Regions from separate parts of the Homo sapiens genome. Here regions 1, 2 and 4 are each reported to be linked to region 3. The links are microRNA targets in miRTarBase. Many come from high-throughput screens and were not tested one by one. Region 3 holds a microRNA gene; each other region holds the end of a gene's coding sequence.
The links. The annotated mature microRNA hsa-miR-520d-5p reads CUACAAAGGGAAGCCCUUUC and lies in region 3 at 2,246-2,265, shown strand. An mRNA with a match to its seed (bases 2 to 7 or 8) in the 3' UTR can be bound and repressed. Matches are read on the target gene's strand: a 7mer-m8 pairs with bases 2 to 8, a 7mer-A1 pairs with bases 2 to 7 and ends in A, and an 8mer does both.

Region 1 (3,184 bases), not on the chromosome of region 3:
TCTGAGACATGTTTATTACTGCTTTTTATGTTGTTGAAGTCTTATTAGAAATAGCCCAGGTGGTTTGATCATGATACAGTGCTACTTGAAAATATATCAAAGGTAAAAATTCTCTCAACTATACCTTGAATGTCTTTTTCCCTGTAGACTTCTGTAGAGAAGTACAATTGTGTTTTAAATGTCTATTTTGAACTTGATGGGATACCATTAATCTATATGTGGTTTGATGTGTAACTTACCTGATATTTTTGTTTTAACTTTTTAGGTCCACTATCCGAGCTTTGATCAAGAATTTTTCAATTGCTTCTTTTTTCCCTGCTTTCATCACACTGCTGTTTTTTCAGCATAATCGAACAGCTTATGACATTGTAGCAGGAACCATTGTGGTAAAAAGAAATGGGGTCAGATGATGCCCCCCAAAACCCTGATTTCCACACACTAAGACTAAATTATGTATCAAGGCCATCAGTATCCCTGGGTTACACTAATTGATGATTTAGAAATTAAAGCAGTCACTCCAGTGTGATGCAGGTGACTACTCTGAAAGTATTGATTATACTTGAATGCCAAAGAACTTGTCCAGAAGAAAAACCTGTTAAATTCAAGTATTAAAATTTTTAGATCAAAAAGGCAAATGATTTTATAAACAATGGACAATATATACTTTCTTAAGATCTAAGGTACTTTCTTAAGATCTAAGAATTTGCTGAAAGCATTTTCAGCTTTGAAATCTCCAAATGAAACTTTAAAATTTATTTTGGTTTATCCCAAAATAATGGAAAATGTCCAGTTGTGTTTTGTAAACACCTATGTAACTCATCTTTTAGTTTACACTTCCTGGGGAAATTGTCTTTGGTGTTTAGAGGAGGGAATGAGAACACAAATTGGATAATCCACTGTCTCCCATCCCAGGAGGTGGTGAGTTGGCTACAAGAGAAAGGGACAAGTGAGGCAGGCCTAGCAGTTCCCTTACCTGAAGTTTTCAAATCCATACTGCAGTTCCCTCTCGTAATGATGTAACTTTACAACTATTCTTAATGCTTGAACATGTATTTAGGGGCAAGTTTCTCATGATGATGAAAAAGTATCAAGTCATATTGCTATGTTAATTGGTTTTTTTTTTTAAAAGGTAAGTTAGTGATTACTGTTAATGGTGGGGGAGTAAGTTTTCACTGTAAATTGAACTTATAATTTATGTGCAAGTGTTTTCAGTGCCCTGAATCAAACTATAAATGTGGGGAGAAATCACCTCCATCAAACAGTTGCATATTTACTGTAAAAGTATTCCCAGTATGTGTGCAGCATGAAGAAAGTATTAGTGCTTCTCAGTGTTCTCAGTGTAAATTCTATTTATATACAGCATATTCACATACTACTTTCCTTATATTTTATATAGTTCTATGACTGTTGAAACATCAAGGAGTTAAAAAAATCTTAATATTTCATGATTAACTCTAAGTACTATTAATTAATAGCTTGCGAAATATTAGCAATTTTCCCATTATGGACTATTCTCTCTAAAGCAAGAGAGACTAGCATTCCCAGACATCATTCTAGGGTCTTTAAGCTCATTTTGGGTCTGCTAAAGTTTGGGGGGAAATGTTACGCAAAGTGATACTGTGTATGTTGCCATTTTGCTTTATTCTTCTGTTGAAGCAAAATTGTGGGGTTTTATTATGTGTGTGTGCTTTTCCTAGATGTCCCAGTTAGCTGTGCTGAGATATACCTGTACTATTTATGGTTTAAGTTTTGATTCTTAGGTATTTTCTCCAGCTCTGACATTGTTTTCCAAAGACACACTAAACTGCATTGCACAGTTCAAAATTTGATTACTTAAGGGATCAATCTAGGTGGTGTTCTTGGTCTTAAATTTAACAGCAAACACAGCACATATCTATTATCACTATATTAATTTTCAAAGGTTTTTCTTTGACGTTTAAAACTGTGACAACAGATATTCACATTTGATTATAGAAACTTAATGTCTATTAATAATTTTAGTACAAAATTTCATAAACCGTGTTTTTCAAAATAAGTTTATGTCAAATCCAGCTTCCCAGAAACACTAATAATTAAGTACATCAATGTACTAAATAAATCATTCAGTTGCACCCATGGGGAAGATTGTGTTACTGCCCTTCACAGTGAAAAAAAGAAAAATCTTTCATTTTTAAAATTAGGAGATGTTACGTAACTTGGCACTTTAGTAGTGTATACACTAGCATTAGTTTATACACCACTTTTGCCGCTGGGGAATTCAAGTTGAAATGTCCCTCAATCATATAGGTCTGGAATACATCTTTCATTCATAATTTCTGCTCAGATAATTGAATAGTTTGCCATCGAGATTATTTTCATTTATACTATAAAACAAAAGCAAACTAGTCCAGTTTAATTTTTTGTACTTAGAATATTGCACATTTTCTATATATGAGTTATTCAGATTAGTATCTATGTAGGTTCAGTCAGATCCAACCATGGATTCGAGGTATTATACTGTATAACCCTACAAAATACATAGAAGTATTATTTGCCTTCATAATAGAACCCAAGAGTCTGTTTCAATTTATGAATTCAGTATTTGCACCGAGATTTTGATTCCCAAAGTTTGGAAAAAAATGACAAAACAACGAGGGAAGAAGGAACCAGACCTTAGTGCCACATATTTTTCTCTTGGGGTTGTAAGGTAGTCTCCTGCTTTCCAGAACACTTTATTATATTTCACTTATAGACCTGATTTTCTGTGTCAAAGTATAATTCTCATGCTGAAGCTGTAGCCTAAAAAGCCAAAAGAAAGTTGTCTTCATTGTACAAACATATTCATCACTTTAACAATAAGGGAACAAAATTTAGTATTCAAGCTGAGTGAGAATACTGTTTCAATGAGCATGTCCCTAAGATAAACCAGAATTGGCAGTTAATTTAGGCGTCTAGAAAATCTCAGTTCCCACCAGTAAAATTATCCTGAGTAGCTAATGCACCTTGAGAAAAATCTGGCATACTGAATAAATAACATTAACTTGGGAGCCAAGAGCTGGGTAAGCCTTACCTTTAGACTACTCTGTGACTACAGAAATAAAGCCAGCACTTTTGGAACTAATAAGCCTTCACTTGTCAGTATCATAAAGAGTATTGCCCAACTGAACTTTGCTCCCACTGGTTTAATAGTTACTTATTTCTGCCT
Region 2 (3,184 bases), not on the chromosome of region 3:
ATAAGTTTCTGGTGTTTATGTAACTTTATTTGCCAAATCTGGCCAACTCTAAAGCTGATCTCGGGAGATGAAGTTGGAAGTAACATTGGCCATATGGGTCTCTGTTCTTTCTGTTGATTTCCTTAAGTAAATAATGCTAAACTATTAAATAATTATTAGTATATTGTTCACATTTTTATGACTGATTAAAGTGTTTGGAATTAAATTACATCTGAGTATAAATTTTCTTGGAGTCATATCTTTATCTAGAGTTAACTCTCTGGTGGTAGAATGAAAAATAGATGTTGAACTATGCAAAGAGACATTTAATTTATTGATGTCTATGAAGTGTTGTGGTTCCTTAACCACATTTCTTTTTTTTTTTTTCCAGGCTATTCAAGATCTCTGGCAGTGGAGGAAGTCTCTTTAAGAAAATAGTTTAAACAATTTGTTAAAAAATTTTCCGTCTTATTTCATTTCTGTAACAGTTGATATCTGGCTGTCCTTTTTATAATGCAGAGTGAGAACTTTCCCTACCGTGTTTGATAAATGTTGTCCAGGTTCTATTGCCAAGAATGTGTTGTCCAAAATGCCTGTTTAGTTTTTAAAGATGGAACTCCACCCTTTGCTTGGTTTTAAGTATGTATGGAATGTTATGATAGGACATAGTAGTAGCGGTGGTCAGACATGGAAATGGTGGGGAGACAAAAATATACATGTGAAATAAAACTCAGTATTTTAATAAAGTAGCACGGTTTCTATTGACTTATTTAACTGCTTTATACTTTGTCAAAGAAATAATTAATGTAGTTAGGAATGGCAAATAGTCTTGTAAAATTCTATGAGAATGTCCCTGCCCTCCCCTTCAATATTCTCTCTGGAGCTAACCACTTTTTCATCATAAGGATTTAGTGCTGTGTTCCCACCTCCTGATGATAGTTAACAATTATTATAACTATGCAACATGTTTCCAAATGTTCCATTAGACCTCCTATCTGCCTATTCTAGCCTCACTTGCAAAGAAAATGTGGCATGTTAAAACAGCTTAAAAGCAGCCTTTCAACCTGTATGGTTTTTTCCCCTAGGCTGGAGTGCAGTGGCACAATCTCAGCTTATTGCAGCTTCTGCTTCTTGGGTTCAAGCAGGTCTCCTGCCTCAGCCTCCCAAGTAGCTGGGATTACAGGTGTGAGCCACCAGCCCGGCTAATTTTTGTATTTTTAGTAGAGATGGGGTTTCACCTTGTTGGCCAGGCTGGTCTCGAACTCCTGAGCTCAAGTGATCTGCCCACCTCGGCTTCCTAAAGTGCTAGGATTATAGGTGTGAGCAACTGCACCTGACCTCAACCTGGATTCCTTATCTGAATCAAAGCAATTATTTCAGTGACTATTTGCTCAAGTTGCCTAGTACTTCTTACAGATGTATAGGAGAAAATTTATCACGTAGATAATGAGGATATTCAGAGACTAATTAGCACCTTTATATGTTCTGCCTTAAGCTGATTACATGATCTGAGTCAGATATACTGATTTGATTTCTATTGTTTTGTTGTGCTTTATACTCCAGTAGTTTGAGTAGGTGAGGGAATGTTCTCCAGTTCTGTGCCGTTTTCCTTGGGAGATTTTCATCTCCCACTTCTATCCATTCTTAGTCTGGTTTGATTGTCTTGGATGGTTTTTCTCATTCCTTTTTGTTTAAACTTGGGAAAGAGACTTTGATTTTGTCTTTAAATTTTTGTGTTGATTTTAATATACCAACTGCTTGCTGCTTTGGGCGTGTATCTGAAATCTAAAAAACATTACTCAACATTTTATTTATTCCAACATTTTGAAGTGATCGTGAATTTTTTTTCTTTCTTGTTTTGAGACCTATTCTCGTCTGTCACCTAGGCTGGAGTGCAGTGGTGCGATCTGAGCTCACTGCAGTCTCCTGTCTCAGCCTCCAAAATAGTTGGGATTACAAGTGTGTGCCACCACACCTGGCTAAGTTTGTATATACATATAAAAATAAATAAATATATAAATATATAGTATATAGATATACTAAAATATACATATATTTTAGTATAGATGGTTTCGCCATGTTGGCCAGTCTCGAACTCTTGACCTCAAGTGATCTGCCCGCCTCAGCCTCCCAAAGTGCTGGCATTAGGCGTGAGCCAGTGTGCCCAGACAGGTTTTCATCCTATGTGTTTTTGCCTTTAACTTTCTAGTAGCCTGTTTCATTTAGCAGGTTGGCATTTGTTAACTAGGCTGATAGTTGTATTTTGAATCGGATCTGTAGATGTTAACCCTTCTCACTTCTAGGATAGTTCTCCACTTTGGAGAGTGGAGAAAAGTTTGGGTACAGTACTATCTTGTCTCATAACCAGTTTCTGGGTGTCATATATGTGTTCTAATTGTTTACTGTGGGTTGTGGTTTCCTTCATTAATTCAGTATCCTCTATCCTCTATCCATATCTGTCCATGTTTTTCTATACCTTTATTTTAATGAAGACTCAAGAGAGGATGGTATGTTGATTGCCTCACTGGAAAGTACTTTTTTTTTTTTTTTTTTGGTGCCACCATGCCCAACTAACTTTTTTGTCAAGACGGTGGTTTTGCCATGTTGCCCAGACTGGTCTTGGACTCTTGGGCTCAAGTGATCTCCCACCTCAGCTTCCTAAAGTGCTAGGATTACAGGTGTGAGCCATCACATCTGGCTGGAAATGATATTAATGTGATTTTTTTTTTGGCCAATTTTTAGAGTGATGGATTGATACCTAGCAGCCTGTGAAAAGGAATCAGTGAATTTATCCTTAATTCAGATTTTCATGTATTTGTATGTATATCAACCCACTGTGTTTTTTTGGTGCTGATATTTTCTTTTTGACCAAGGGAATCCCCTTCAAGCTTGCTCCTACCATAGCAGGTCTCAATAATCTGATCACTCTTCGATTTCTTGTGTGACGGGGTGTTTCATCTTGCTCATTTTCTTCCTCAGACCTGGAGGGGCCATTTCCCCCAAAGAACCTTGGCTCCCTTAGAAATAATGGTATTTGTAGACCACTGTCTGGGTGGGAACATTGCTTGTTAATACTGGGTTCTAGGTTAGCCAGTTGATTAGATCAGACCAGACCCTTTGGAAAAACAAGGGAATGAACAATTCTAAGTGCTGAGGAGGGCATCCATGCACAGGTTGGCTGACAAGCTTTTCATAAGTCAACAGT
Region 3 (3,184 bases):
GGGGTCTCACTATGCTGCCCAGGCTAAAATGGGCTTAGGTCCTTTTGCCTCCACCTCTCCCCAGTCCTTAGTAGCTGGGACTACATGTGAATATTAACCATGCACAGGCAAGAGGAAAGAAAGGACCGTTCTTTGGTTCACACCTAGCCGCCAGTCAAATTAGTATTTTAGATGAAGACTGCATTTGAGACATACTTGAACAACAAATGATTTGCTGTTTAGGTGTGGGCATCTTTCTTTTTTCCTAGTTTTAATAATGGCACCAGGCAGAGTACAGTGGCCCACGCCTGTAATTCCAGCACTTTGGGAGGCTGAGACAGGAGGATCACCTGAGGTCGGGAATTTGATTCCAGCCTGGCCAACATGGTGCAGCCCCATCTCTACTAAAAATACAAAATTAGCCCAGCATGGTGGTGGTATATGCTTGTAATCCCAGCTACTCTGGAGGCTGAGGCAGGAGAGTCGCTTGAAGCTGGAAGGCTGATCTTTCAATGAGCTGAGATCACGCCACTGCACTCAAGCCTCGGCAAAAAGAGTGAGACTCCATCTCAAAAACATAAAAAATAGGCCAGACACGGTGGTCCACTCCTGTAATCCCAGCACTTTGAGAGGCCAGGACAGGCGGATCTCCTCAGGTCAGGAGTCCAAGACTAGCTGGGCAAACAAGGCAAAACCTCGTCTATACTAAAATTAGGAAAAATGGCTGGGAACAGTGGTGGACACCTGTAATCTCAGCTACTTGGGAGGCCACGGCAAGAGAATCTCTTGAACCTGGGAAAAGGAGATTGCAGTGAGACGAAATCACACCATTGTACTCCATCCTGGGTGACAGAGTGAGATTCTGTTTCAAAAATTAAATAAATAGGCCGAGCACAGTGACTCATGCCTGTAATCCCAGAACTTTGGGAGGCCGAGGTGGCGGATCACCTGAGGTCGGGAGTTCAAGACCAGCCTAACCAACACGTAGAAACCCCATCTCTACTAAAAATACAAAATTAGCCGGGCATGGTGGCGCATGCCTGTAATCCCAGCTGCTCGGGAGGTTGAGGCAAGAGAATCACTTGAACCCCAGGGGGCGGAGGTTGTGGTGAGCCGAGATTGTGCCATTGTATTCCAGCCTGGGCAACGAGTGAAACTCTGTCTCTAAATAAATAAATAAAACTATTAAATAAACATTAAACGTTAAAAAATAAAAATAGATAAATATGAGATCATCATGAATTTGAGTGTCACCTTTGCGCAGGGCCCATGGTAATCTTTGTCATTCCAATTTTTTCATGCGTGCTGCCAAAGCTAGCACTTGTGTGTAGGAAGTATTCTTCCTGTGAGCATACAATATATGGAAGTTTCTTTTATTATTATTATTTTTTATGTTTTTGCGACTGAGTTTTGCTCTTGTCGCATAGGCTGAAGTGCAATGGTGTGATCTGGGCTCCCTGCGATGTCCACCTCTTGGGTTAAAGCGACTCTCCTACCTCAGCCTCCTGAGTAGCTGGGATTACAGGCATACACTTCCAGGGCTAGCTAATTTGTTGTATTTTAGTAGACGGGATTTCTCCATGTTGGTCAGGCTGGTCTCAAACTCCCGACTTCAGGTGATCTGCCCACCTTGGCTTTCCAAAGTACTGGGATTGCAGACAGCCACCGCGGCTGGCCTTCATATATTCTTATATATATAATATCATGTACACACAAAAGACTCTTTTACACCCTGAGAATACTCTTATATCACTTTGGGCATTTTTTTGTTGGTGTGTGCATTTTTTGTTTGTTCGTTCGTTTGTTTTTGAGACAAGATCTGGCCCTGTCACCTATGCTGGAGTGCAGTGGTGTGATCTCGGCTCCCGGCAACCTCAACCTCCCACCTCAGCCTCCTGAATTAGTGTCTACAGGCATGCACCTCTATACCTGGCTAACTTTTGTATTTTTACAGATGAGGTTTTACCATGTTTCCCAGGCTGGTGTCTAACTCCTGAGAATATAAGGTATATGTAGTAGGCGTTGCTTTTTCTCTTTGAAGACAAAACCCAGGACAGTTGTCCCTCGATGAACAAGGCTAACCTGCTGAACGTTTGAAGCAAGGAACTGGAGATGGTCTTTGTATCGGTTTATGTTCTAGATTCCAGAAAATATGCAAACAGGACCAATAAATGCATCTTTATTTTTGTGTCCATTTTGACCAGGTCAAGGAAAATTTCAACAAGAAACCCAGAGTGCCGGAGCAAGAAGATCTCAAGCTGTGAGTCTACAAAGGGAAGCCCTTTCTGTTGTCTAAAAGAAAAGAAAGTGCTTCTCTTTGGTGGGTTACGGTTTGAGAAAAGCAACGTTGAAGTTGATGCTGATTTCGGTAATACATTTGCAGAGCATGCTTATCACACTTGGACGATGGTGGGGTTCTGTTTTGGTTTTGCTTTTTTATTCTAAGGCTCTGTGTTGCTCATGCTGGAGTGCAGTGACATGTCCAATATATCTCTTGGCTTCAAATGGTCAGCCTGGGCAACACAGGGAAATTCTGTCTCAAAAAATAAACAAATGAATAAAAATACAAAATAAAGCCGGGCATGGTGGCTCATGCCTGTAATCCCAGCACTTTGGGAGGCCGATGCAGGTAGATCATCTCAGGTCAGGAGTTTGAGACCAGTCTGACCAACGTGGTGAAAATCCGTCTCTACTAAAAATACAATAACAACAAAAATTAGCCCAGTGTGGTGGTGGGCACCTGTAATCCCAGCTACTTAGGAGGCTGAGGCAGGAGAATTGCTTGAACCCGGGAGGCAGAGGCTGCAGTGAGCCGAGATTGTGCCACAGCATCCAGCCAGGATGACAGAGTGAGATTCCGTCTGAAAAAAAAAAAAAAAAAAAAAAGCTGGGCGCTGTGGCTCACGCCTGTAATCCCACCACTTTGAAAGGCCGAGGCGGGTGGATCACGAGGTCAGGAGATCGAGACCATCCTGGCTAACACGGTGAAACCCCATCTCTATTTAAAAATACAAAAAATTAGCGAGGCGTGGTGGTGGGTGCCTGTAGTCCCAGCTACCCGGGAGGCTAAGGCTTGAGAATGGCTTGAACCCAGGAGGCGGAGCTTGCAGTGAGCCGAGATCGTGCCATTGCACTCTAGCCTCGGCAACAGAGCAAGACTCCGTCAAAAAGAAACAAAAACAAAAACAAAAAAAAGAACCCTACA
Region 4 (3,184 bases), not on the chromosome of region 3:
CATTGGGTGGCCACAAAGACTTGGAAGCTCAAAATTTGAAACATCAAAATTAAACACAGACCCAATTTCTTTGCATTTTTAGTCCTGTATTCTATGTTTGACAAAATCACTGTAAAATAAAGCAGCAGTAAGAAAAGAAGCAGATTCAGAGGACTAAAAGCAGGAACAGATGGGAAAAAAAGGCTGGAAATCCATTCGTTTATTTACTGAGCCTGGTCCAATGTCAACAGAACTAGGATTAACTAGGTTAAGAGTTGGCAAAGGACAGGAAAGCAAAGTAATAAAATTTAAAAGCTGAATTGGTACAGTGTTATGAAGAAGTGTTTATTTAGTATTTATAGTACCAGATTACAGTCACTTGTTGATTTAGATATGAATTTTCATATGTTAGAAGACTCAGGGAAATACACAGGATCCCAAGGAGTGAGACTGAGATTCTGGGTCTTATTAGCTGTACTTTGGGTAATTTACTTAACCCTCTCTCAGCTTCAGTTTCCTCAAATCTAAATTAGGGCTTAACTAATCATTATGTCCTTTGTAAGACTGGAAATGTGGATTAGCAGTTAGACAGTATGTATGTACCCAGTTTTGTAGATATGCTGGGACATAGTAGGTGTTCAATAAATTATACATATACCTGAATAAACAAACTATACATAAATATTTTATAAATTATACATATAATCGAACATCATTTAGGTAAACTCTTTAATGAAAGACATTTATTGTCAGATTATAAAATCAGTGTTGATGATAAGCCCTCCTACCCACAAAACAAAAATCGTATGTATGAAATTCCCTTTCCCGTAAGTTATGTGCCTGTCAGCCATCCCACTTCAGTCCATCTTTGGATGCTGAGGCTCTGGTTGCCAGTCCTTATCTCTACACCTGTCCCTGGTCTAGAGGAGAAACGAAGGTGCTCTGAGGCCCCTGTAACAGAGACCCTTGTCATCCATATTTGCAATAAAGACATCATGGAGGCTGTGCAAAAGTATCCTTCTCCCCAACTTCTGCAGGCACCATTTCCATCTCACTACCCAGAGGTACATCAGAGAGCAGGAGCCAGGCAGGTGACAAAGATGTGGAAGGCTTCTAAGTGGTTGGCTTTGCCGTCTCAGAAGTGCGAAGAAATGAAAATCCATCAAAACAGAATGCCATTCCATGTTTCAGGCTTTTACCTCACCTCAAATCAAATGTCTGTTCTTTATTTATTGGTCCCATAAGTAGACACGCACTTGGACTTCTGGTTTTAGAACATTCTATTGTTATCCTTTCTCCTTTTAATAAACACACACTAGTTTCGAGGAATCTCCCTAATAATCCTGGCCTGACATGCTGCAGAACTTCAATTTCATAATTTTACTAACAACAGAGGAATTTCATCTTATTATTACCAACTACCACATTAAAGGATCTGAAACAGTAATTCATGCATAATTCTATTTAATAATGGTTTTCAAAGTACTTTGCTGTTTGAAAATGCTTCCCAGATGATTCTGATCGGAGAGTTGGGAACCACTGCCCTAGACTGTAACCACTCAATTGAACTTTACTCAGTGCTGCTTCCCTGCCCACTTCAAGTAAACAATGCTTAACTTTTTCGTTTCTAAAACAACTGAGATTACTTTCTCCCCCTTAGTTTCTACAATGATTGTTGAAAATTTGTGGGAAAAGTTTATCCTTACAAATGAAAACATGAAATCTGAAGTGGATAAACTAACTTTTAAGAAATACATATCCTTACTCAGTAAGCTGAGGCAGGAGGACCACTTGAGCCCAGGAGTGCGAGGCTTCAATGAGCTATGATTGCACCACTGCACTCCAGCCTGGGCAACAGAGCAAAACTCCTGTCTCTAGAAAAAATAAATACCTATCTTTCAAAACTTGCATAAAAAGCCCTTGTCTTCACTTGTACAGCCTCTTCTGTTTCATGAATGAGCATGCTGAAGGGCTATTTACTCTCCTATGAAAAAATGTTGTTACAGTAAATGACAAGTGTTATGAACACAATGAACCTGGTGTGTTAGATGTTAAGTGTGCTGCCACCCCATGTGAACCTCCAAGTGAAACTGCTCACATAACTGTTTTTTTGCTGCATGCAAACCTGCTAATACAAAGCGGGCTCCTGACTTAAGGACAGCCAATCCCTACTCTAGACAATGACCCAACCAGACCTAGTATAAAAAGGTAGTCTGGCCCAGTTAAATTCCCTTGGCAATTGGAGACTAGCAGCAGGAGCTGAAGGTCATCATGTAGAAAAGAACCTCAAAGGTGCAAGTTAAAGTTATTACAAAGGAACAGAAACTGTAAGTATGCAAAAGCTGTGTAGAGAAGTTGGTGAATAGAGAGAATGGAGTTAACAATGCAAAAAGAAGCAAGTCACATGCATGCAGAGCCCAAGCCTAAACATCCACCTTCCCCTGCTGAGGAGCACCACCCAATTTCTACTCTTCCTGAGGCTGGGAGGTGATTTCTGAGTGGGAGATGGGGTTGGTGAGGTGGTTCCTGAATTCCCTGGCACATATCCTTGAAATAATGTCACATTGCTTGAGCTAACTTGTAGCTTTTGAGTCTTTTTATGTTTGTCCCACTTGAGATTCCTTGCAACTAAAAGAGCATAACTGAAACAACTAGTTAAGCCAATACCATTTGTTAAAAATAATGCACCATTCTAAATTTCTGTTTCCCTAACCAAATCTGGCAAAGTCTGATCCATTAAGTTTTAAAACTTTTCTAAGTTTAATGTTGTCACTGTATGTTTACGTATTCATTGGTACAATTTACATCAAGTTTTGTACTTATCCATTTTTGCAAAGATATGTACACAAAGATACATATCCAATAACTGAGAAACAAGTGAAACTTCTGATCTATACTTTCAGGTTTGTTCGATCATGATACTTCTGATAAGGATCATCAACGTACCAGTTTCGCCTCTTCCAGAAGGACGTCGTCATTTTATCTAAGAGTTTACTCTGGGTTTTATTGCAGAATACAAATTCCCTCAATCGCTTCTTCCTTGCAGGTGTCTTTTTCCATAATTTTTTCTTATAGCCAGCCTGTCAGATATTACAAAGAAATGTAAAACATCATACTATGTATGAAACAACAGGTATCTTCACAACTCAAGGTTTATAGACCCAATAAGAACAAAAACCAGACTTCCATAGGGGCTGGACTATTT

Region 1: miRTarBase lists FAM8A1 as a target of hsa-miR-520d-5p. Seed matches in the 3' UTR shown: 7mer-A1 at 797-803.
Region 2: the mRNA of NPM1 is a reported target of hsa-miR-520d-5p. The part of its 3' UTR that is shown has no 7-base or 8-base seed match.
Region 4: the mRNA of MRPL35 is a reported target of hsa-miR-520d-5p. Seed matches in the 3' UTR shown: 8mer at 2,288-2,295, 7mer-m8 at 2,112-2,118 and 7mer-A1 at 1,682-1,688.

What each region holds. Positions count from the first base shown.
Region 1 is chr6:17,607,930-17,611,113 of GRCh38, forward strand. FAM8A1 (family with sequence similarity 8 member A1) reads left to right here. Exons shown (of 5, transcript NM_016255.3): 5 at 266-3,184. The coding sequence ends at 410. Among named protein-coding and RNA genes, the nearest start is that of FAM8A1, 9.2 kb to the left of the region's middle. RefSeq lists a silencer at 2,695-2,895.
Region 2 is chr5:171,410,157-171,413,340 of GRCh38, forward strand. NPM1 (nucleophosmin 1) reads left to right here. Exons shown (of 11, transcript NM_002520.7): 11 at 371-744. The coding sequence ends at 409. Among named protein-coding and RNA genes, the nearest start is that of FGF18, 7.9 kb to the right of the region's middle.
Region 3 is chr19:53,717,866-53,721,049 of GRCh38, forward strand. It overlaps MIR520D (microRNA 520d), which reads left to right and starts at 2,231; the gene lies at 2,231-2,317. It also overlaps the pseudogene RNU6-803P.
Region 4 is chr2:86,210,355-86,213,538 of GRCh38, reverse strand. MRPL35 (mitochondrial ribosomal protein L35) reads right to left here. Exons shown (of 4, transcript NM_016622.4): 4 at 1-3,059. The coding sequence ends at 2,871. Among named protein-coding and RNA genes, the nearest start is that of MRPL35, 12 kb to the right of the region's middle.